Regions from separate parts of the Homo sapiens genome. Here all the other regions are linked to region 2. Evidence: fine-mapped expression QTL. A gene starts in region 2. Each other region holds a variant in brackets. All regions are shown on one strand. Distances are between the middles of the regions.

Region 1 (8,410 bases), 33 kb before region 2:
GCTTGGCATTTAAGCCCCTTTATATTTTAGTTTAACCTTTTCTCAACTGTTGGGTATAAGCTGCCTTGTATTATCTTTTAATTAATCAACATATTAATTCAACAAATATTTACTAAGCATCTATAAATGTCAGATTATGTGCTAGGCACTGGAGATGCATAAAGATGAATAGAGCACAGCAGCTACCCCTAAGGGGCTTACAGCACATACGGGTAAGACAAGTGATTGCAGTGGGTGACTAAAGTACTATATTGGAGGTGTAGACATAGAGTATGGTAGCGTGTACATTACATTACATTTCCTGGAGTGATCACAGGGACCATTAAGGAAGAAGTGGTATTTGAGCTCAGTCTTAACATGAAGATTGTTTGCTAGGTAACTGAAGAACACTCCAAGAGGATGGAATAAATGTGTTAAAGCAACAGAGACATTCAAGAACATTCATTATATCTGGTGTGCAGTATGTACAAAAGAGTAATAAACAAGGAAGCTATTAAGCTGGGATGTTCTAGATCGTGTAGGTACATGTACCTGCTAAGCAGTACAGACTTTGTCAGCATGGGGAGACATTAGGGGGTTTTAAATGAGGGAGTAATAGGATGAGATTTACATATGAGAAAAATTCCTCTGGTAATTACTGTAATGGATGGCTTTAGGAGGTTAGACAAAAAATAACAATGGACTAGGATAGTAGCAGTGAAGATGGAGAGAACGGGACAAATTTGAGAATTATTTGGAAGACTAAATGAGCAAAAATCGGCGAGAAAGAAAAGGAAAGAGTGACAGAGAGATTGAATATTGTAATATATCAAGGGGGAAGGAGTCAATAAAAAAATTAGAAATCACAAGAGTTAGGAAGCAAGAAAGGTTCTAGAGCACAGGTGTATGGATCAATATTGAACGACAACAAGGAAGGTGGTAAAGGATAGGTGTCAACACAGATGCTGGTAAGAACTTATGAAGAAGAATATTAGAAATAAAGAAATACAGTTTACTCTGTGAAGTAGAAGGTTTAGCTATATGAGAATGGAGGATTGAGGTCTTAAGCATTTTAACTCTGTAAGGATTGAGAAGGGAAGCTAACTAGAATCACACAGAATGTCTAAATAGTGTCGACAGTACAACATTGTTGGAAATGATGAATTTATGGTGGTATCAGTTTTCATGGCTGTGAGATTCCCCTACTCCCCTACCCCTAGCCATAACACAGCTGCCAGGATTAAGAATGAAAGGAGGTGGCTAGGCACAGTGGCTCATGTCTGTAATCCCAGCACTTTGGGAGGCTGAGGCAAGAGGATCACTTGAGCCCAGACCAGGCTGGAAAACATAGAAGACTCTGTCTCCACACACACCCAAAAGTTTTTAATTAGCCAGTCATGGTGGTGTGTGCCTGTAGTCCCAGCTACTTGGGAGGCTGAGGCACGAGGACTGCCTGAACCTGGGAGACAGACATTGCAGTGAGTGAGCTGAGACGCACCACTGCACTCTGGCCTGGGAGACAGAGTGACTCCGTCTCAAAAAAAAAAAAAAAAAAAAAAGAATGAGAGGAGCAGGTTTGGGGGCATGAGGGGCAGGGGTCCTATCTGCCCATTATAAGCATTTTGAGACAAGAATTTTGTTTTAACGTTGCTGTGACAATTACAACTTCATGTAATACAGACAGAGCTTCATGTAACATTTATAAAATGTTCAACATTTTTGTTTTTTTGAGAAGGAGTTTCACTCTTGTTGTCCAGGCTGGAGTGCAATGGCGCGATCTCGGCTCACTGCAACCTCCGCCTCCCAGGTTCAAGCGATTCTCCTGTCTCAGCCTCCTGAATAGCTGGGATTAGAGGCATGCACCACCACACCTGGCTAATTTTGTCTTTTTTAGTAGAGACAGGGTTTCACCATGTCGGTCAGGCTGGTCTTGAACTCCTGACCTCAGGTGAGGTCAGGGATTACAGGTGTGAGCCACCAGGCCCGGCCTCAACATGTTTGTTAACTGACTCATGTTGAAGTGATTTCAAAGACAAATACCAAGAGACCAAAATTCAGGATTAGTTTTAATAAAGGCTGATGATGGAAACAAAGAAACAAAGTCCTCATCAAAACATAAGAGCTGAAGACAGAAGGATGAACTTTCCTAAAAGCCAATGGAAAGAGAAAGCACCTGAGACCAAGGGCTCAGAATGCTAGAGAAGGAAACAGAGGGAAAAAAATTATTGACACTATGACTGTAATGCTGTCATTCCAATTTTTCCCAACAAGTCTAGATACTAGAAGGAAGAAAATGGTAATTAAGGTAGAAAGTAGTGAAAATGTAGGGCCAAACATGCCTATGGAGCAGAACACACAACACATGAATCCTGAAGAAATTGTATGTGAATTTACTTAGCAATCGTCTCTTTGATCCATCTGACTTATTTTAAAGAAAAGACAGCCAGACAAGGCTGGGCGTGGTGGCTCACGCCTGTAATCCCAGTGCTTTGGGAGGCCAAGGTGGGCGGATCACCTGAGGTCAGGAGTTCGAGACCAGCCTGCAGATCTGCCACTAATACTGGGTACTCATCAACAATGTCCTTCAAAATCCAGTACATATGCTAAGAATAAGTATTAGATTAACAGAGGCTCTTAAGCAAACCAGTGCTATTTAGTGGAGTGTCCCAAGCAAGAGAAATGTTAAGACCACTTTTTGTTTGAGCTCAGATTTGTATAAAGAAAATGCAAATGAGGTAAACTGTGTTCTGAATACATTAGATTAAGTTGTGTTGAAATTCTTCCAAATATGTGGAGATAAATCCACTAGAAGTTGAAGAACTCAGCAGTGATGAAGATAGTTATACTTCTAATTCACAGCCTATAACTTATACAACCTATGGTTGTAATTTTCTTCTCAGCCTATAACACTGAGAAGATGGTGAGAGTAATACCAGACAGTAGATTTAATAAAGGCCAAAGTATAATATAAAGAGAGTTTATTGGGCCAAATCCACAAACTGGTCAGTCAAGAAAAGTATAAATGATACAAGAGGACTGTACCTACACAGTTAAAAAAGAAGAAAAAAAACTTACTAAGAAATAACAAAGGAGGATGGATCTTGAGGCTGTTGCAAATATTACTGAAGAAAATTATGTATAAAGAAGATTATGGGCTAGCCAGGTGTGGTGGCTCATGCCTGCAATCCTGACACTTTGGGAGGCCGAGGCGGGTGGATCACTTGAGGTCAGGAGTTTGAGACCAGCCTGTCCAACATGGTGAAACCCCATTTCTACAAAAATACAAAAATTAGCCAGGTGTGGTGGCGGGAGCCTGTAATCCCAGCTACTCGGGAGGCTGAGGTAAAAGAATTGCTTGAACCCAGGAGGCGGAGGTTGCAGTAAGCTGAGATTGTGCCACTGCACTCCAGCCTGGGTGACACAGTGGCTCATGCCTATAATCTTGGCACTTCCGGAGGTGGAGGTGGGATGATTGCTTGGGCCTAGGAGTTCAAGACCAGCCTGGGCAACACAGGGAGATTTGTCTCTACAAAAAAATTAAAAATTAGCCTGGCGTAGTAGTGGATGTCTATAGTCCCAGCTACTTGGGAGGCTGAGGTGAGAGGATTGCTTGAGCCCAGGAGGCTGAGGCTGCAATGAGCCATAATCATGACACTGCACTTCAGCCTGGGTGACAGACGGGAGAAGGGAGACCCTGTCTCAAAAAAAAAAAAAAAAAAAAAAAGATTATGTCATTCTTTGGTCTTGTGGATGATCCAAATTATTTTTCATGCACTGTGGAAACATATTTCACATTTTCATTTTAAAGATGGTTTTGGAAAAATAAACATGACCATAAGAGACTATCTTCTTAACAAGAAGGGGAGAAAATTGGCCTAAACAACAAATTAGGAACTAAGGAGTTAAAAGGGGAATTAGGGGGACTAAGAGACTACTGTGAACATTTCCAATATTTTAAGAGCCTATATTGATTTCATGTTACAGTCAAAGGTTAACTGCTTAATGTAGGCTGAACATAACATTTCCTAAAGTTTTAAACCCAGACATTAAACTAGAAACTATTATTATATATACTGTATTCTGGAATTTTTTAAAAACATTGTTTTTAGTGTGTATACTTTGAATAGTAAATGTGTCATGATCTTCAATAATTTAGAAAATATAAATGGAATCATATATAAACTTTTGAGACTGCCTTTTTTTCATTGAGCCTAATGCCTTGCAGATTCATGCAAGCTGCTGTGTATTATCAACACTAGTTCCTCTTTAAAAAAAATACATTTTGAAACATAAACTACAGACCTGCCATGGTTTGAATATATCCTCCCAAAAGCATCTGTTGGAAACTTAATCCCCAATGCAACATCACTGGGAGGTGGGGGACTAATTAGAGGTAATTAGGCCATTAGGTAATTAAGCCACCCTCAACAATGGATTAATGTCATTATCAAGAGAGTTTGTAACAAAATAGGGAGTTTGGTCCCCTTCTCTCTCACTCCCTCTTACCCTCTCTGCCCTCTGCCATGGGAAGATGCAGCAAGAAGGCCCTCAGCAGATGCTGGCACCTTGGTCTTGGACTTTCCAGCCTCCAGAACCACGAGTCAATAAATTTCAATTCATTATAAATTACCCAGTCTGTGGTATTGTTATAGCAGCATGAAACATACTAAGACAACACCATATAATTCACTCAAAGTGTTCAGTGTTTCTTAATATAGTCACACTGTTGTGTAGCTGTCACCACAATCTAATTTTACATTTTTGTCTCCCCACTAAAAGAAACCCTCTACCCATCAGCAGGCTAATCCCCATCTCACTCTCCCCAACCCTATCCAGACTAAACGACCATTAATCTAACTTCTGCCTCTATAAATTTACCTATTCTGGACATTTCCTACGAATGGAATCATACAGTATGTGTTTGGGGTTTTTTGCAACTAGATTCCTTAACTTGCATTTTCAAGCTTCACACATGTTATAGCAGGAATCAGTACTTTGTTT[T/G]TATTGCCAAATAATATTCCATTATATGGCTATATCACATTTTATCTATTCATTTGTCAGCTGGAGGACATTTGGGCTGTTACTTCTTTATTAGCTATTATTTATAATGCTGCTATAAACATTCCTGTACAAGTTTTTGTGTGGAAATACACTTAATTACTGGGACATATGGTAATTCTATGTTTAACTTTTTAAGAAACTGTCAAATTGTTTTCCAAAGTAGTTGTACTATTTTACATTGTCACTAGTAGCAGATGAGAGTTTCAATACTTCACATCCTTTCCAACACTTGATATCTGTCTTTTTGTTTATAGCCATCCCAGTGAGTGTGAAAAAACTGTACCTCATTTTGGTTTTGATGTGTATTTCTTTAATAACTAATGATGTTGAGCATCTTTTCATGTACATATTGGTGCTTTTTCCTCTCCTCACCTTAATTGGAAAGCTGTTACTTCCTTTTGTTCCCACAGTTTTGAGGTTCTGCCCTGACTTACTTATCACATTGTAAATATTATTGTTCTCTGAACTATGCATCCTTTGGTTAAAAACCTTACTTAGCATTTACATAATACATTCCCAAAGAGTCTGTCATTTTCCATTATTTCTATCCCTTTCATCATGTGATCTCTGTTCTAGGTCACTTGTTATTTGGCTAAAACCCCTTCTTGAATTTTCTCAGAGGAGTTAAGTGGGTATTATATCCTTGAAATTTTTGTATAGTTGTAACATGTTTCCCCTCATAGGGGAGAAATATCTTCAAGGGAAATAGGGATTTGGGATTGTGAAATCCCCAATCTGTAAATACTCTTCTACCATCTCCTAGTTTCCAGTGTTGTGAATTAGAATTCTGATTCCAGTCTGTTACTTGATAGGTGCAACCTGTTCTATCTGGAAGCCTCCAAGGTGAATCCTTGGAGCTCAAAAATTTTACAAGGATATCCCTATGTATGTGTTTTTCATCACTGATCTCCCCCAGAACTTCATTCTGCACACTGAAGTCTTTAGCTCAGGAAATAATTTTATGTTGTTTAATTATTCCTTCTCCATTTGTTCCTTTTTCTTCTTCTGGAACTTGTATTAGCCATGTTAGGTGTCCTGAATCGATCCAATAGGTCTCTTTTTTAAAAGTTTTTTTTTTTTGTATTTTTTTTTTGGCTCCATGCTTTGAAATATTTATTTTACTTGATCTTCCAGGTCAATAATTGTTCATACTCATTCATTCCTTTATTCAATAATTATGTTTCGGGCGCCTACTATGTGTAAGACAGTGTTCTAGGTATTAGAGTTGACAACAGATTAGCAGTGAATACAAGACAAAAAAGTTCCTGTTCTCCTGGTGCTTACACTCTAGCAGAGATAGTTTTAAAAAAAATAAGTGTGTGAGGATAAATGGAGTCAGGTGATAATAATTATTTAGGTGGAAAAATCACATTTTTTGTTCCATAAAGTCTTAAATGTGGCCCATTATTATTTTCATGTTCAAGTTTCTCTCTCCTCCAGCATTTTTTTTTTTTTTTTAAAGATGGAGTCTCGCTCTGTCACCCAGGCTAAAGGGAGTGGCGCGATCTCGGCTCACTGCAACCTCTGCCTCCTGGGTTCAAGTGATTCTCCTGCTTCAACCTCCTGAGTAACTGGGACTACAGGCGCCCACCACCGCGCCCGGCTAATTTTTTGTATCTTTTTTTAGTAGAGATGGGGTTTCCCCATGTTAGCCAGGATGGTCTCGATCTCCTGACCTCGTGATCCGCCCGCCTCGGCCTACCAAAGTGCTGGGATTACAGGCGTGAGCCACCGTGCCCAGCCTCCTCCAGCATTTCTATTTAGCTAACTCAATATATTGTTTATTCTAAGTGGTTTTTCTCTTTCAGGTTGCCTGGCTTCCCCAGATGGGTTGTTTATCTTTGTCACCTCATGGGGGATGAGATTTAGTTGTTGGAGGACCACAAGCGGTAGCAGTCTCAAGAAAATGGAAAGGCAAAGCAGTCTCTACCCCTGTGGGTAGGCAGTGCTGCAGCAGGCAAGCCACCAGCCCTTGTGGAGGCCCAGGAGGAAGCCTCCCTGCTCTCAGGTCTCCTTACATATGCCAGCCACAGGGATGGGAAGATCTCAGACCCATGGCTCTTTCCTTTTCTCCTTCCCTCCAGGAATTCATGGATATCTACCAAACCAAGTTCTTTCCTGGATTTGCCATTCTTATGCTTATCCTGAGATTTTCCAGGCTCTTGTCTAGAGGAAAAGTCCTGTACCAACTCTCCCTGACAGAGTTCTCACACAGCCCATGGCCTCAATTGCACCAACTGTTCATCAGATCCAGGAGCCACTTCACTCAAGATTGACAGATACAGGCTGGAAGCAGGAATGGAGGGATAGTGAGATATTCAAGTAGCCACCTTCCCAGAACTCACTCTGAAAAGTCAGTCCTGTTTACAGACTAATCCTAAAAGCATTAAAATCTTGGCATGTAAGTCAAAAATTTAAAGTGCCACTGTAAAGTCCAAACATCTGTGGACTGCATTGTTTTCAACTACTGCCCTAAGTATTAAGTTCTGAAGAAAAAATTTAAGAAATAAGGAAGATCTTAATGGAAGTCAAAATTAAAGGAAACTGATTAGATGGACTCTGAAAATAATTGTTATATAAAAGCAGTCAGACCAAAAGGAGTACATACTGTATGATTACATTTATATAAAATTCTAGGAAATGCAAACTAATTTGGTGACAGAAAAAGAGAACAGTGGTTGCCTAGGGACCAAGGAATTAGGTGAGTGGGGCATAAAGGGCACAAAGAAACTTCTGGGGGTGACGAAAATGTTCACTATCTTCATTATAATTATTTCATGGGCATATAAATGTCAAAATTCATCAACAAAATATACACCTTAAAGATGTACAGTTAACTTTATGTCAACTGCACCTCGATAAAAAAATACCGATGGGGAAAAACATTTGGAATTTATTTCCCAAAGGGATTGACATCCCTAAATATAAAGCATATCTAAAAAATAAAGAAGAATACCTACAGGTAACAGACATGAACAGGAAGTTCACTAAACTTTTCCGAATTTGAAATTTCCACAATAAAAAATAAAATATGTAATTTTCAGAAAAATATTAAAACACTATGTCTCACCCTCAATACAGGTGAAGAGATAAAATATAATTACAGTGTTACTGCAAGAATATTTGACTGCTGATAAATACCAATTATTTTTCTTTGTTTTTTACATTTTTCTTTTATTTTTAAAATTGAAGATGAGGTCTCACTATGTTCTCAGGCTGGTCTCAAACTCCTGGTCTACAGCCTCCATCTCTCAAAGTGTTGGGATTATAGGCATGAGTCACCATGTCCACCCATTAATACCAATTAATGATATAATCAAAGTTGGAGTAGAAGATTAGGAAAGTCATCTTGGAGGAAATAAGTATGAAC
Region 2 (8,262 bases):
CTCAAAAAAAAAAAAAGAAAAAGAAAAAAAGTATTAGGTCCTGCAAATGACATATAAAAATATGTTTTATAGCCACATGGTTATAAAGCACATGTAAAAAATGTTCATCATAGCAGAGGCAAAATGATGCAAGAAAGAGCACTAGATAAAAGTCAGGAGGCCTGAACTTCAGTCTTGGCTTTGCCACTTTGTGATCTACAAATAACCATCTCTATAAGCCTTAGTTTCCTCATTTATTTTGTTATTTTTTTAGTCTAATCTATTGGGGTTTTAAGTCTCCTCACTTATTAAAATGTGGTTTGATCAGAATAAGATTCTAGATCATTAGCTCTAACATGTGGTGCTTTTCAAAAAAATTACTATAAAAGTGATACACTATAAATACTTAAAAGTTGTATATGCCCTTAATTGTTTTGGTAAAAGAAAATTCCACTCTATTTTTTTTTCTTTTTCTTTTTTTTTTTTTTTGAGACAGAGTCTCGCTCTGTCACCCAGGCTGGAGTGCAGCGGCGTGATCTCAGCTCACTGCAACCTCCGCCTCCTGGATTCAAGCAATTCTCCTGTCAAGGCCTCCCGAGCAGCTGGGATTACAGGCGCACGCCGTCACGCCTGGCTAATTTTTTGTATTTTTAGTAGAGACAGGGTTTCACCGTGTTCCCCAGGCTGGTCTCGGACTCCTGAGCTCAGGGAATCCACCCGCCTCGGCCTCCCAAAGTGCTAGGATTACAGGCGTGAGCCACCGTGCCTGGCTCCACTCTATTTTTGTAACTCACTTTCCAGAGGCATCCACTCTCAACAGTTTCTTTTGTATCTTTAAGGCGTTCTTCATACATAAGCTAATACACTGCTAAGATTCTTGATTTTACCAACTGGACAGTCCTATAAATTCAAATGGAGCCTTGCCAAAATGAAAGAAAAATTACTTTGATAGCAGAAAGAAAACTACTCAGAAAGCCAACAGCAGAAAAAATTAAAATATACTGAAATAAGTATTTAAAACTTCATGTAGGGCTGGGCGCTGTGGCTCACGCCTGTAATCCCAGCACTTTGGGAGGCCAAGGTGGGTGTATCTCCTGAGGTCAGGAGTTTGAGACCAGGTTGACTAACATGATGAAACCCCATCTCTACTAAATACAAAAAATTAGCCAGGTGTGGTGGTGCATGCCTGTAATCTCAGCTACTTGGGAGGCTGAGGCAAAAGAATCACTGGAACCCGGGAGACAGAGATTGCAGTGAGTGGAGATTGCGCCCTTGTACCCCAGCCTGGGCAACAAGTGTGAAACTCCATCTCAAAAAAAAAAAAAACAAAAAAAACTTCATGTGTCACCTCCTGTTTGTGTGATGTAATGTGAGTAGAAGACATATGACAAGAAACTTCGGGTGGGAAGTTTCTCTACAGGAAGAAACGTGGGAGGCATGGGGGAAAGGAGAATCATACTAATGTCACAACCACAGAAGGATGTACAAAGGGTGAAAAAATTCAGAGAACTGTAAATACTAAAATAGCAAACTAACTGTGAAATGCACTATGAGCTTAAGGAGAGTCAACTGTAGAAAGGATGCAGTTGTTATCTATATTAAAGCCAGCCTAGAGGGAAGTGTATATTAACATTAGGCCCTTTTCTTCACAACAGCACCCTTTGAAGATCTACATCTAAATCTAACAAGGGCTTTCACATACTGAGAAGTCAAGGGTGAAATAATTGTGTTTCTAAGTGGTTTCTTCTAATGGTGGGGAAAATTTATCACATGATGACAGTCATCATAAGAATTTTTTTAAATATAGAAAGAAAAAAAAAGAGAAAAGGTAGGTCACTGAGAAAGTATAAAGTTCCACGAGAATAGGGCAAAGTCCTCTCTAATGGCCAGACTATTAATTTCCCTTTCATCTGGGTACCGGAGAATATTTAAACATTAAGTAAGGAATGTGTTATATAGAGAACCAAGCTTTTAACATCTGTAACCACGTAAACAAACATAAATTTCACTTAGATATGTCCCCATTTTTACCCCTGTAGTCCCATTTTTACCCCTATAGTGTAAAAGGATACCACTTTAGACTGTAAAGAATGCTTAAGGGTAACGTAAGAACCGCAGACTGGACAAGGAACCTGTTCTGCTGGTCTAACACATTACTAAGTCCACTTTTCCAAAGAATAAAAATACAATTCTGTAACATGTAAGTCACAAGTCTAACAAACTAAACTATAAATTACCTAATGATAATTACAATATTAAGAAATTAACACTGGTATAGTCTTTACCTGGAATTTTTACAACCTAAATACAGCATGATGGATAAAAACTAAAACCACAATTTGGAATTAATTTGGAGGAAGAGGAAATGATAAATTTGTATTCCATACTGTAATTTTAATCCAGTGTATGACACACTGTAAAATTTGTCAAAAAGTTGAAAACAGTAAAGTCTGAGAACCAACCTATGTCTCCATAAAAGAAAAAATGATTAGTCAAGGATGAGTGAATTCTAGGACTGTAAACTTTACCAAATCTACCTTGTCTCCAGATACTAAAAACACAAACAGAATTAGGGAACTAAAATCATTCTGGTTTCCTGAACCCTTTAGGTTAAAAGGAACAATATTTCCTGACACCGGAAAATGGTGAGTAAGCCTTGCTTTCACAAGTCAGTGGGTGAGGCTATGGTTTTCAAACTTGGGTGGAATATTATTTTAAGAGTCTTTAAGGGAAATTTTTATCATTAAAAGATTACATTAGTTACAACACAGCATAAAACTAAATATATAAAGCAGTACAGGTCTCAAACTTTTAAATTTCAGAGTCCAAAAAATGTTATGATCTCCCCATTTTCTCTCTTCTCTCTCTTCCATCACCTCTTCCCAGTACCTCAAATAAAACCAAGCCAGCTGACACACACAAACTGGTTTAGGAAGCTAAAGGTCTGTAGCAGTCAACATGAGCCAGGAGTGGCTTGTGTGCTACCTGCTAACTCTAATCATCAGACTTTCCATCTAAAGCTCAGAGAGAATAAATTACATGGGAATCAGGCCCTAAAAGCCTTTTCAGAAGTCTTCCATTTGACAGAATAGCACATTAGGTCTACCCACCATCACCCTGAGTGGGCTTAGCTACTTGTGTCAAGGTCTCCATAAAAATACAGATTTCAAAAAAGAATTTTGCAATACACATTCGAAGTCTTGGAGGAAAGCTGCTAAGATACGACCAGTAACTACTCCATGAAACCAGTCTTAAAGCAGACTGAAATAGCCAATGATGGCTACAGAACACATATCCAACTCACTAAATTTTAAAATTTAGGATTCTGTGTGCTGAAAACGATTACATTCTTTGATATTCACTTTTAACCAAAATACCCATTTCATTTCTAAGAAGACAAAAATGAGGAAGTTAAAATATACATTTGCCTTCCTTCTTGTCATACACCTTCCCACATACCAAATTACTACTGCAAAGAGCCACTATGCTATTATTCCAAAGAGTTCCTAAGCATCTCACAAAGAGATGCCTTGGTTCCTGATGACTATTATAATCATAATTATATGATTATGATCTTCCAGATCCATAGATGGTCATCTTGGATAAAGAACCCAGTAATGAAAGTATGCTGCGGTCTGTGTTTCTACTTACCCTCGATGACATCCTGGGGGTGAGAAGTCCGGTCACTGGGTGGATCCAGTGCAACAGTTGCCAGCGAAGTGGTGGCCCCAGACATCTCACTCATAGGCTCACTCCGGCTTGTTTCAGGCACGCTTTCCCGGGAGCTAAATCTTACTCGGGAACTAGATCGAGAGCTGAGGTCCGGACTGGTGTCTGACAAACCTGGAATGTCATCGATCTTTGTCGGTGTCACCATGAACCGAACTGAAGCCATCTTGGTGGTGGTTTCTGGAGGATGCATTTTGTTCTTTTTAAGAACAAAAAAAGTGGGGGGAACCTCGCAAAATCTTCCTCTTACGCTAGCTACTTTTGACTGCAATACAAAAGATAACTTGAAAAATAACACATTTCAATAACCTTGATTCACACCACACAAAAAGCCCCAACTAAGAATACTTCTACTCAGAATTCAAGCCGACTGTCCTAGAAAGTGCATCACCAATAGGTGAATATATTTTTTAAGAGAGAAAAAAACAAAAAACAAAAAGACAAAACAATGCCAATCTTGTGTGACTTCTTTCCTTCAGAATGAAGAGCTACCTAGCTAACCCCTCTGGTCCGGGGCTGAAGGCTCAGTGCCATGGTCTCAGGGCAGCAGATGAAGCCTCCCTCCCCTCAGCCCCCAGTTTCCTGTCGAGGTAGTCCTTTATCTGGTGAGTGTCCCACGGTTCTAGTTGGGCGAAGTGCGTGCAGGCAAACCTTTATCAGGCGACTATAGCGTGGATCAGATTGCTAAAAGGTGTACACCCGGCCACCTGTTGTGTATCAGGTGAATACCCCACAGGTCTGGCTGGGGGGAGGTGTATGCAAAGCCACCCGGTGTTTTTGATGTCGACAATCCACTTGGGTCTGGTGGGAAAGGTGCACATGCATAACGGGAAAAATAACCCACACTACTGAGAGAAGGGTGAGCAGAGGAGGATGCAGGGGCAGAGCGGATTCCTGTCTCCGAGAGGTCGGTGGGGGTGGCGCGCCCGCTCTTCTCCTAGCAGAAAGGTCCTCGGGGTCTGGGAGGAGGTTAGCGGATCAAGACACCTCGGACTGCAGCTCAGAGTCGTGGCAAGTCGTAGCTAGTCCACTGAGCCACGGTCCGCTCGCTAGGTTTCTCCTGCGTGTGACAGGACGAGCCACCCCCTTTGCCGGAGGCGCGTTCTCCCCTACCCCCGCCCCGGCGCAGGTCACCCCCTCGTCGTTCTTCCTCAGGGTCCCAGTAGAGGAGGAGACGGCCACGCAGGCTGGCCTGACTGGGCAGCAGGGTGAGGGAGAAGGAGGTCGCAGGTGCAGTATCCCGGCGCCAGCTGATGCGGGTGCGCGCGCAGCTGTTGTTTACTAGCCGGTAACTGTTTCAGAGCCGCGGCGCGCGCAGGGTTCGCGCTGCCGGGGCTGGCGCCCCCTCCCCGGCCCGACGCCAGAGCAGCAGTTACGTGACCTGGCCTCCCCCAGCCCCGGGCCCGACGGGGTGCGCCCGCGCCGCCGCAGCCCTTCCCTTCCCTCCCCGCTTGTTCCTCATTCGAGGTGAACCTTGCGAAGAGAAGCCCGGGGGTGCAGTGAGAGGGCGGAACCGTCCCGCGGGCGCCCGAAAGCCCCGCCCAGCCGCCGCAGCCCGCGGTGACCGAGTGCAGCGCGCCTGCGCTCGCCGCGGGACACGGCAGGCGGGGCGGGGCCGAATACGAGTGGCCAGGGGCACGACGGGAGCTGTAGTCCAGGGCACGGCCCGACCCGCGTGAAGAGGGGAATAATCCTTTTCCTCGGTCCGGCTGTGCTGCACACTCACTCTGGAAGCATCCTAGAGGGCGGGCGCTGCTCCTCACCCTCAGAACCCGGGGAGCCATTTCTCTTTCATGAGTGTCTCTGAAAACATCATTCATGATTTCTTTAACCAGAAACACCGCTCCTATACCTGGGAATAACCCTCATTGTAATTTTTATGTAGAGGTCTACATACAAATAAACCACTTTTATGTAAAAAAAAAAAATTAAAACTATAAAGTAGGCCTGGCGCGGTGGTTCACGACTGTAATCCTAGCACTTTGGGAGGCTGAGGCGGGCGTGATCGATCACCTGAGCTCAGGAGTTCCAGACCAGCCTGGCCAGCATAGCGAAACCCCGTCTCTACCAAAAATTCAAAAATTAGCCGGGCGTGGTGGCGTGTGCCTGTAATCCCAGCTATTCCTTAGACTGAGGCAGGAGAATCGCTTGAGCTTGGGAGGCGGAGGTTGCAGTGAGCCGAGAACGCACCATTGCATTCCAGCCTGGGGGGACAAGAGCAAAACTCCGTCTCAAAGAAATAAATAAATAAAAATAAAACTATAAAGTACCTTAAACACATTTGTCCTACTTTAATTTTTTGTTGTTGTTCTTGTCCTTTTAATAAATGCTATGTCCACTTTCTAGTCAGACTGAAAGTTCCACTAAATAATACGTTTTTTTATACCTGGAGAAGACGTTGATGTATTTTCTCAAATCCATTCCATGTTTTCACCACTACATTTGTCGCTAGAATATTTTTTCTTAGTGTTTATTTAATGTATAAATGGTGGTGTTCGATAAATTCTGACTCACCAATGTTTTGTTTGAAAAGCTATTTCCTATAGCTGTGATCAAGACCTCTAAATTTAACAATCACCTGGGCCCAGAAACTGGCCCCCGGTTTTGCCTGGGGTCTTGGCTCCTCACAAGTGGTTATGTTTAAGCAGCACTCCTAGCAATGGGAACTGTATTCCCGGAAGTTCTCTTTTATCAAATGACACACAAAGTCCAAATCCTTTCAAGGATTAAAGGATCAAAAAGGTTAAAAAGATCCTGGTAACAAAATGAGAAATCCTAATGTAAAGTGTAAACCTCCTAAAGTTTGACTCTTTATAAAGTCTGGGTTTCTTGATTCAGGCCCACAGCTTTCATCCATCCTCAGCAGGATCAATTTTTTCCTCAGGCAGGCCTGCCGTTCATTCAAACTTCAGACTTTTCCTTTATAAAGAAACACAGAATTTTTATGAAACCCAATTTCCTACCAGTGTATCTGCATTTACTTATATGTACCACCTAATTCCAATATACTATCCCTGTTAAGACTTTTCTTGTTTCTGAGCACTAACCAAGCTCTATAAATGTATGTCTCAGACGTTAATACCCCAGGGATCTCTTTATTTTCTCAGGGAGACACAGCCTCTGGTGCAAAATGAAGCCTCATTCCTCAGGGGATCTCTTATGGAAAAAGTCCTTTTTATATTCATGCCAGTTTGCTTTCTCTCCTCTATATTCATTAGGAATATTTTCAGGTTAAAGCTTTTAAGTCTACACAGGTGGTAGCATGGAGCAATGCTAATTCTTTTTTTTTTTTCTTTTTTGTAAGATAAAGGCAGAACTGCAGCCAACATTAAAAAACTGGTAGCAAAATTCACTTACTGACTTTGGTGCTTAAGAAACATGTCTCCAATCATTATCCCCTTAATTGGATAAGATAACTTTTAAAAATCTTTCAGATCCAATGTTATATCCAATCCTGTAAGTGAACAAGCTAAGAAATAAAATTGCTTGACAGGAAACAAGTATCCCATTTCACAATTTCTCTAAGTTAACTCTTTAAAATCCTTCAGATCCAATGTTAAGAACCCTGCAAGTAAGTGAACAGGCTAAGAAATAAAATTCCTTGACAGGAAACAAGTATCTCATTTCACCATTCCTATATGTTTCAGTAATGTATTTCAAAATCATCTGTCTTCTATTAATTATGACTCCAGTTGAGAGACTTTTTTTTTTCTTTTCAGCAACCCACAACTATCCTGAACTTTTCTGCTGGGATGGTCAAATAGCAAGATCCAAGAAAAGCAAAGTCTGGCCGGGCACTGTGGCTCACGCCCGTAATCCCAACACTTTGGGAGGCCAAGGCAGGAGGACAGCTTGAGCCCGGAGTGCAACACCAGCTTGGGCAACATAGTGAGACCTCGTTTCTATAAAAAATTTAAAAATGGGGTGGACCGCTTGAGACAGGGAGGTAGAGGCTGCAATGAGTTGTGATCACATCACTGCACTCCTGCCTGGACCACAGGAGTGAGACCTGACTCAAAAAAAAAAAAAAAGTATTTCCAGGGTATGTCTTCATAAATCACATCTGTGCTAATTTAAGTTATATCTGCTTCTGGAATCTAGAATTTTTATCATAGAAAATAAAGATTGCAGAATTAAAATACAGACTCCACAAAGCAATTTTAAAATCTGCAGCACTAGGCCGGCCAAGGTGGCTCATGCCCGTAATCCCAGCACTTTGGGAGGCTGAGGCGGGCGGATTACTTGAGGTCAGGAGTTTGAGATCAGCCTGACCAACAAGGTGAAACCTTGTTTCTACTAAAAATACAAAAATTAGCCAGGCATGGTGGTGTGCGCCTGTAGTCCTAGCTACTCGGGAGGCTGAGGCAGGAGAATAGCTTGAACCCAGGAGGCGGAGGTTGCAGTGAACCAAGATGGCGCCACTGCACTCCAGCCTGGGGTACAAGAGCAAAACTCCATCTCAAAAAAAAAGAAAGACCCAGGCCAGGTGTGGTGACTCATGCCTGTAATCCCAGCACTTTGGGAGGCTGAGGTGGGTGGATCACTTGAGGTGAG
Region 3 (8,373 bases), 100 kb before region 2:
AGCTGGGTGGATCATCTGAGGGCAGGAGTTCGAGACCAGCCTGGCCAACATGGTGAAACCTTGTCTCTACTAAAAATGCAAAAATTAGCTGGGCGTGGTGGCACACGCCTGTAATCCCAGCTGCTTGGGAGGCTGAGACAGGAGAATCACTTGAACCTGGGAGGCAGAGGTTGCAGTGAGCCGAGATCGTGCCACTGCACTCCAGCCTGGGTGACAGAACGAGACTCCATCTCAAAAAAAAGGAAGAATTAAAGGTAAATTCTTAGGGACAGTTTTTGGCTAACAGGTATATAGGGGAGTGGGGTAATGGTGGTGGCATGGAGGGGAGTGTAGTGCTTACCATGGTTTTCTGTTTGCCTTTAATGGTCCTATTTGCTGTCTTACTATGGGTCTGTCTATATGAATTTAATATACAGTTGGCTTGATTCGTATTGGGGGAAAGAGTTCTTTTGGTTTGACAACTTCTGTTACCGCAACAGCTTTCAAGATGTTAGAAAGTTCAAGCCAGAAGTTTCTTCAGGGTTTGGTCTATCTCATTGGGAACCTGATGGGTTTGGCATTGGCTGTTTACAAGTGCCAGTCCATGGGACTGTTACCTACACATGCATCGGATTGGTTAGCCTTCATTGAGCCCCCTGAGGTAAGGCAAAAGAAAAGCTGAATTTTGGGTAGTTGTAGTATACAGTGAATAGCTGACCTACTTGATGGTAGGAAATTGGAGTTGGTATTTGAGTTTCTTTTTTTTTTTTTTTTTTTTTTTGAGACGGAGTATTGCTCTGTCGCCCAGGCTGGAGTGCAGTGGCATGATCTCGGCAACCTCCGCCTCCTGGGTTCAAGCAATTATTCTGCCTCAGCCTTCCAAGTAGCTGGGATTACAGGCACCTGCCACCATGCCCAGCTAATTTTTTTGTATCTTTTAGTAGAGATGGGGTTTCACCATGTTGGCCAGGCTGGTTTTGAACTCCTGACCTCAAGTGACCTGCCCACCTCTGCCTCCCAAAGTGCTAGGATTACAGGCGTGAGCCACTGCGCCTGGCCTAGGGTTTCTTAAAAAATAAGAGCCATTAGGAGTTTTTAAGTTATTATTTTTAATTAATTAATTAATTTATTTATTTTGAGACAGAGTCTCACTCTGTCGCCCAGGCTGGAGTACAGTGGTGTGATCTTGGCTCACTGCAACCTCCGCCCCCCAGGTTCAAGCGATTCTTGTGCCTGAGCCTCCCTAGTAGCTGGAATTACAGGCAACTGCCACTGCACCTGGCTAATTTTTGTATTTTTAGTAGAGACAGGGTTTCACCATGTTGGCCAGGCTGGTCTTCAGCTCCTGACCTCAGGTGATCCACCCACCTCGGCCTCCCAAAGTGCTGGGATTACAGGTGTGAGCCACCATGCCTGGCCAAGTTATTATTTTTGAAACAGGGTCTTGCTCTGTCACCCAGGCTGGAGTGCAGTCATGTGATCATGGCTCACTGCAGCCTCAACCTCCGGGCTCAGGCACTCAGCCTCTCAAGTAGCTGGGACTACAGGTGTGCACCCCAATGGCTCGCTAATTTTTGTATTTCTTGTAGAGACAGGGTTTTGCCATGTTGCCCAGGCTGGTCTTGAACTCCTGGGCTCAAGCGATCTGCCTGCCTTGGCCTCCCAAAGTGTTTAGCTAAGATTAGCTACTGCGCCTGGCCTGGAAGTTCTTTTTTAAGGATAGGCAAAATAGAGCTTGTGGTTAAAGTATTAAGTAATTGATTCAGGAAGTTATTTTAACACTCATTTGCCACTCACCTATTTATTCTTTCTTTCTTCTTTCAGAGAATGGAGTTCAGTGGTGGAGGACTGCTTTTGTGAACATGAGAAAGCAGCGCCTGGTCCCTATGTATTTGGGTCTTATTTACATCCTTCTTTAAGCCCAGTGGCTCCTCAGCATACTCTTAAACTAATCACTTATGTTAAAAAGAACCAAAAGACTCTTTTCTCCATGGTGGGGTGACAGGTCCTAGAAGGACAATGTGCATATTACGACAAACACAAAGAAACTATACCATAACCCAAGGCTGAAAATAATGTAGAAAACTTTATTTTTGTTTCCAGTACAGAGCAAAACAACAACAAAAAAACATAACTATGTAAACAAGAGAATAACTGCTGCTAAATCAAGAACTGTTGCAGCATCTCCTTTCAATAAATTAAATGGTTGAGAACAATGCATAAAAAAAGTTGCACAAGTTCCTTATTTTCCTTAATATTTCACTTCTATTTAATACAAGCTGGGACATAAAAATTCTGTTGGGGATACCTGGGGGAAGATGTGAGAAACTAATGCTGAATTCAGCTTATACATGATGAAAAGAAAAACCAGACAAAAGGAGCACATAAATATGCATACAGTGTAACTGTTATTATTTTAATACCCACGATAAGGGATTTTTGTTAGCATGTTTAGGGGGAACGAGGATTGGTGGGATCCTTGGGCCACAGGAATCTGAGGCAACGGAAGATATATAGAGTGATCGTCCCCCTGCCGAAGGAACCTGGCACCTGTCAAGCAGATGCTGCAGTTCAAACTTCAGCTTTTAAGATAGATAGCTATTGAAGGCAGAGGGTCAGCAGGAGGATGTGTATTTCTAATCTACCCTGGTAAAGTCATAGGTAAGACTCAAAAGCGGGATCTTATTCAAAAGGCAGGTATTTCCTTTGTTTTCTGTCTTGAAATAGCCCCTTCCCCTAAGGTGCATTCTCTCAAGTTTTCAGTATTGCTTTATTTGCAGTGATTAAAAGAGATGAGAGACTTTGGAGACAGACAACGTAAGCAACACATACACACATGAAATACTCTAGACAGACATGAATATAAATCTGGCCTAATAACCAGTTTTCCATGTAACAGTGATTTTGTGTTTCGGGCTGAAGCAGTGGTTATATTAAAAGCCACTAATTCCCTTATCCCTTTAAAAGATTTTTACAATTCTCCAACCACAAACAGCACTTCTAAAACTAACTTTACTTTCTGCCCATAATTTGTTCTACATGGAAAAAAAAAATATTACTTTGGCCAGGGGTGTGTGTAAATGTGGCAGAATTCCTAGGCAGGCTGACCTTTACAGTATGGGCCTTTAAGATACTGGATCCTGGTTGGGCACAGTGGCTCACGCCTGTAATCCCAGCACTTTGGGAGGCCAAGGCGGGCGGATCACCTGAGGTTGGGAGTTCGAGACCAGCCTGACCAACATCAGTTTCAGTAGAGAAACCCCGTCTCTACTGAAAATACAAAATTAGCTGGGTGTGGTGGCACATGCTTGTAATTCCAGCTACTCGGGAGGCTGAGGCAGGAGAATCGCTTGAACCCAGGAGGCAGAGGTTGCGGTGAGCCAAGATTGTGCCATTTCACTCCAGCCTGGGCAACAAGAGCGAAACTACGTCTCGGAAAAAAAAAAAAAAGATACTGGATCCTGCAGGACATGACTCACTACTGTTAAACTCAACTAAGCAATGGAGTGTTGCAGTGGGAGTTGTAAATAATGCTTCTACCATCTGTAGGAAGTAACAGAAAAAAAGACTTAAGATCCTATCCGCTTTGCCATCCTCAGTGGGCCTGGAGGTTGAAGCAAGCAAAGGGAACAAATCAAAATTACTCAATTTCTTTCTTTCTTTCTTTTTTTTTTTTTTTGAGATGGAGTCTCCCTCTGTCGCCCAGGCTGGAGTGCAGTGGTGCAATCTCGGTTCACTGCAAGTTCCACCTCCCGGGTTCACGCCATTCTCCCGCCTCAGCCTCCCAAGTAGCTGGGACTACAGGCGCCCGCCACCATGCCCGACTAATTTTTTTGTATTTTTGTAGAGACAGGGTTTCACCGTGTTAGCCAGGATGGTCTCAAATCTCCTGACCTCGTGATCCGCCTGCCTCGGCCTCCCAAAGTGCTGGGATTACAGGCGTGAGTCACTGCACCCGGCCCAAAATTACTCAATTTCTTAAGCTATATTGAAGGGTTTTCTCTGTCCTTACAGGTCAAATGAATAATTTGTGACACCTAGGTCAGCTTGCTCCATGTCCTATTTAGTAATCAAAGAAGAGTGGCACTATTTATGACTAATAAATT[G/C]AAATTCAAAAACAGCCATGAATACAGGCAAGAAAAGTTTCTCTAAATAACTATTCTGTAAAAGAAATGAAGATTTCACATACTTGAAATTACTGCTCAGCCAGCCACATAAGTAGTTTCCCTATGCTTGTAAGCCAGATGTTTGATCAGTATATTAGTAAATAAAAAGCTGAGCTTACACAAGTATTTCCTTGGCACACTGAACTTTCTTTTTGAAACATATCACTCTGTTACCCAGGCTGGAGTGCAGAGGTGCAATCCTGGCTCACTGCAACCTCCGCCTCCTGGGTTCAAATGATCCTCCTGCCTTAGCCTTCCGTGTTGCTGGGATCACAGGCATGCACCACCATGCCCAGCTAATTTTTGTATTTTTAGTATAGACAGGTTTTCACCATGTTGGCCAGGATGGTCTCGAACTCCTGACCTCAAGTGATTCACCTGCCTTGGCCTCCCAAAGTGCTGGGATTACAGGTGTGAGCCACGGCACCCGGCCTGAAGTTTCTGAAAACAAATTAGAAGACTGTTGGCTTGGCTAATCTCGTAGTTCAGGGCCAAGTTTCTGTAGTCAGAATGAAGAATAAAATTGAAAGAAAAAGGGGGAAATGCTTATACTTGGCATTAAGTTGAATGCCTCAAGTCTTAACTATGGCTTTGTAGATGAGGCAAAAGATTTCTTAGTGGTAAAATTTCTTCAACAGGTCAATGCCAATCTGTATGCCATTTTAGTAAAGTAGGTAAGGAGAGTAGCCGCTCAGTAACGTTGGCACTAAAGAAAGAGTGTGGCTCTAGAACTTCCAATTCCATTGCTAGATGTGCCCTTTAAAAGATGGTCCAGTGCTTTCAGGGAAGGATGTTTAGCCAGTTTTCCTAGTATTTGTTCCTTAAGATTTTTTGACCTGTGCTTAATAAGAGGGCATAAAAAAAGGCGCGGGGGTGGGGGCGGGGGGAGAAGAACCTGTTGATTAATGTGCACCATGACCTGCATTTCTTAGACAACAGCTTGTATGTTTTGTCCATGTTGTATAGAGAACCACAGACTATTTCAGTAAATGTTAATAGCTTCCTTTTGGAGTTCTCTTAGTTCGGCCATTTGAAAGGAACCTGAAAGAAATAATTTTTACCTTACCAAAAACAATTTCCATGGTAACACTGCCTGTGTTACAATGACAGAATGGGTTTTGAGTTAAGAGAAACAAAACAGTTGAAGTATACACTGACACAGTATTTGGATATTTAAATCTGGTATTTTGGGGGGATGTTTTTGAAGAAGTAGAGGCTGCAGCCATGTTTCAAGTTAGTATCCTAATATAAAATTACAGCAGTGGGTATACTAAAGAAATATAGCTAAAAAATGTTTGCATCTTGGCTTGCCGAGGATAATAGGTCCAAATATACTTGACCATAAATTCTTTAGTAAGATGAAGCTGTCTCTAGTTGTTATCCTCACAGTGTCAACATTGAACCATGACTTCTGAGATTCATCTTTAATGCTGAATACGTACTTGACTTGCTTTTTTTCTTCAGTTGAATTTCTAGCATCCCTTTTACCAATTCATTTATTGGCTCAGCTTGTTAATTCTAATTTGCCTTTGACTGCTCAGACGTGGCTTGAAAGACTTGAGCATTGTTCTGATGTTGAGGGAATATTTGCTTTTTCTGTAATGACTGCAGATCAGATGGGAGCTCTTTTACACAGGTACTTGAGGCTCAGCTCATCAAGAGTTCAGTATGATGTGTACAGAACACAGGCTTCTAGTTGAGTGGGAGTGGTAGTAATGAGCTGGCACTTCCATGGAGGACGTAGGCCTTTTAAGAAAACAGGTCAAGCACGGTCATTCAGAGTAGGTTATGAATAAATGGTGATCACTTCACTGCCACCACCCCGGACAAGTAGGACTCGCTCTAGTCCCTCGGTAAGCACCTCTAGGAACTCCATGTCTTCAAAACTTGTCAAGGAGACAGGCAAAAGAAGAGCACAAACTTAAAACCTGGCATCATCATAATCTGAGGTTATCTGATCATAGAGCTACAAAATTAGCTGCTTAATTATTATATATTCAGAAAAGTCTGAACTTTGGATTGAATTTAACCCTGTGAAGTAACCAGAGATCCAGTCCTTTTGCATACATAATACCAGACTCCCATTTGTGTATTTAAAAAATGGGAAAACCTAGAAGTGTTACTCTAAATAAGATAAAAATGATGAAAGAAGAAGAAAAGCCACAATAGGGCAGCTAACAAGATTCCTAGAGAGAACCCAAGTAATTTCTAAGTGAAGCTGCTCAAGTCAGATTTTTCTGCCAGTTCGGTTTGTCTTTTTCTTTTTAAACCTTTTTCTTTTCTTTCTTTTTTTTTTGAGACAGAATTTCCTCTTGTTGCCCAGGCTGGAGTGCAATGGTGCGATCTTGGCTCACTGCAACCTCCACCTCCTGGTTCAAGTGATTCTCCTGCCTCAGCCTCCCGAGTAGCTGGGATTACAGGCACCTGCTACCACACCCAGCTAACTTTTCTATTTTTAGTGGAGACGGGGTTTCACCATGTTGGCCAGGCTGGTCTCGAACTCCTGACCTCAGGTGATCCACCTGCCTTAGCCTCCCAAAGTGCTGGGATTACAGGCATGAGCCACCACACCTGGCCTAAACCTCTTCTTTCTTAATGGTACTGGTGGGAATAAGCTAATTTATGTGTCAATGCTGAAGGGTTTCCCGTATCCCAGGAGTCCTGGGATGAAGGTATGAGGAAGAATCCCTATCTCTTTTTTCCCCTCAGTTAAAGGAGGTTCTATCTCAGCTTCTCCCCTAACTCTATCCAAAAGAAAGGCTTTGCAAAGCGGGTAGAACCTAAAAAGGCGAAAGGATGTGGGTATGCTGTCTGTAGGATTGTCAGGAAGGGTTTTATACACTGAATATTAGATGTCATGTTGCAAATACACCACCTAAAACTAGAACTGAATTATATTTGCCCCAACTCCCCTAAAAGAGTTTAATCTTATAACTTTGTAAAAATCCTTGCCTAGGACTTTTAAGTCTCCCTTCCTTAAAGAGGGAAAGTGGGGCATAGACAATGACTTTTATTGTTACCTAGTTATCTCAGAAAGAGGTTAAGGAGATTTTCCCTACTGGAAGCCCCACTCTTGGAAAGGATACAGTTTTCATCACCCTCAGGGTTTCGGGGTGGCCCTGGCATATTCAATAAAACCAGCTTTGCTTCATGGGACTTGTTAACTATAACCTCGTTGAGTTTCACTGCTGTATGCATCCGCCTCACATTGGACTGGTCCCTGAGTGGGGAAGAAATAAAGGTTGTTAAGGTAAAAAGACAACTAGCCATAAAGTCAACGTTAAAAACTTGAGATCCTGAGCTTTTTCACTTGACTATGGATAATCTGATAAAATGATTTTTTTTTTTTTTTTTTTTGAGAGGGAGTTTCGCTCATGTCACCCAGGCTGGAGTGCAATGGTACAATCTCAGCTCACAGCAACCTCCGCCTCCCAGGTTCAAGTGATTCTCCTGCCTCAGCCTCCCGAGTAGCTGGGATTACAGGCCCCCACCACCATACCCGGCTAATTTTTTTTGTATTTTTAGTAAAAACAGGGTTTCACCATGTTGGGCAGGCTGGTCTCGAACTCCTGACCTCAGGTGATCCACCCGCCTCTGCCTCCCAAAGTGCTGGGATTACAGGCGTGAGCCACTGTGCCCAGGCTAAAATGGTTTCTTTATGATATTAATATCTGGGTTTTCTCATTCTCTGTTGGCTTATTTTATAGTAAGAACACAGTATGGAGGTGAACTATGTGGATAGAGGGGATGGTTAGCTTGTGTACAGTGTTCATTGGGAGCCAGTATGAACAGGCAAACAATAATGAGGTGGCTAGATTCAGGGTGAAATGAACAGACTCCATCCTGTGTGTCCAGGCAAAGTCACATTTGTGCCACTGATTAGGTAATTTTATGATAAACTTGGGAGTGGGAAAACTTACGGACGCATGTTAAGCAGGTCCTGGAATCCTTCCATTGACTTCGCTTTTTGTCCCCGGGATGCCATGTACTTGTCTTTTGTCCAAGTCATGTGCACCTTCTCCTGATAGGTTTCTGTCTCTTCGTCCTCATCAGAGCCAATGCTGGTCAATCGTAGCATTGAGTTTCGGTCTTTCACCAATTGTGCCTGAGGAAGAAGGTCCAACACAAGTTATTCTACCAAATTTTCTCTTATGCTTCATCTTTGGTTATTTTGAAGCAGTAATGGGTTATAGTGGAATAACTGACAGAGTGAGAAGGAATTTGTCAT

What was found. PIP is the estimated chance that this variant, and not a neighbour inherited with it, causes the effect.
Region 1: its variant is fine-mapped to the expression of SLC12A6 in whole blood (TOPMed, PIP above 0.99).
Region 3: its variant is fine-mapped to the expression of SLC12A6 in whole blood (INTERVAL, PIP 0.99).

The regions. Positions count from the first base shown.
Region 1 is chr15:34,299,278-34,307,687 of GRCh38, forward strand. All of the region lies in intron 2 of SLC12A6 (solute carrier family 12 member 6), which reads right to left. Among named protein-coding and RNA genes, the nearest start is that of SLC12A6, 34 kb to the right of the region's middle. The variant T/G (reference allele first, on the strand shown) is at 4,981.
Region 2 is chr15:34,332,780-34,341,041 of GRCh38, forward strand. It overlaps SLC12A6 (solute carrier family 12 member 6), which reads right to left and starts at 5,002. Exons shown (of 26, transcript NM_001365088.1): 1 at 4,553-5,002; 2 at 3,631-3,973. The coding sequence starts at 3,901. RefSeq lists enhancers at 1,390-1,439, 3,067-3,116, 3,177-3,246, 3,448-3,567 and a silencer at 4,857-5,416.
Region 3 is chr15:34,227,950-34,236,322 of GRCh38, forward strand. It overlaps EMC4 (ER membrane protein complex subunit 4), which reads left to right. Exons shown (of 5, transcript NM_016454.4): 4 at 480-640; 5 at 1,804-2,207. The coding sequence ends at 1,839. It overlaps SLC12A6 (solute carrier family 12 member 6), which reads right to left. Exons shown (of 26, transcript NM_001365088.1): 24 at 8,066-8,250; 25 at 7,232-7,365; 26 at 1,835-6,023. The coding sequence ends at 5,932. Among named protein-coding and RNA genes, the nearest start is that of EMC4, 7.1 kb to the left of the region's middle. The variant G/C (reference allele first, on the strand shown) is at 4,086.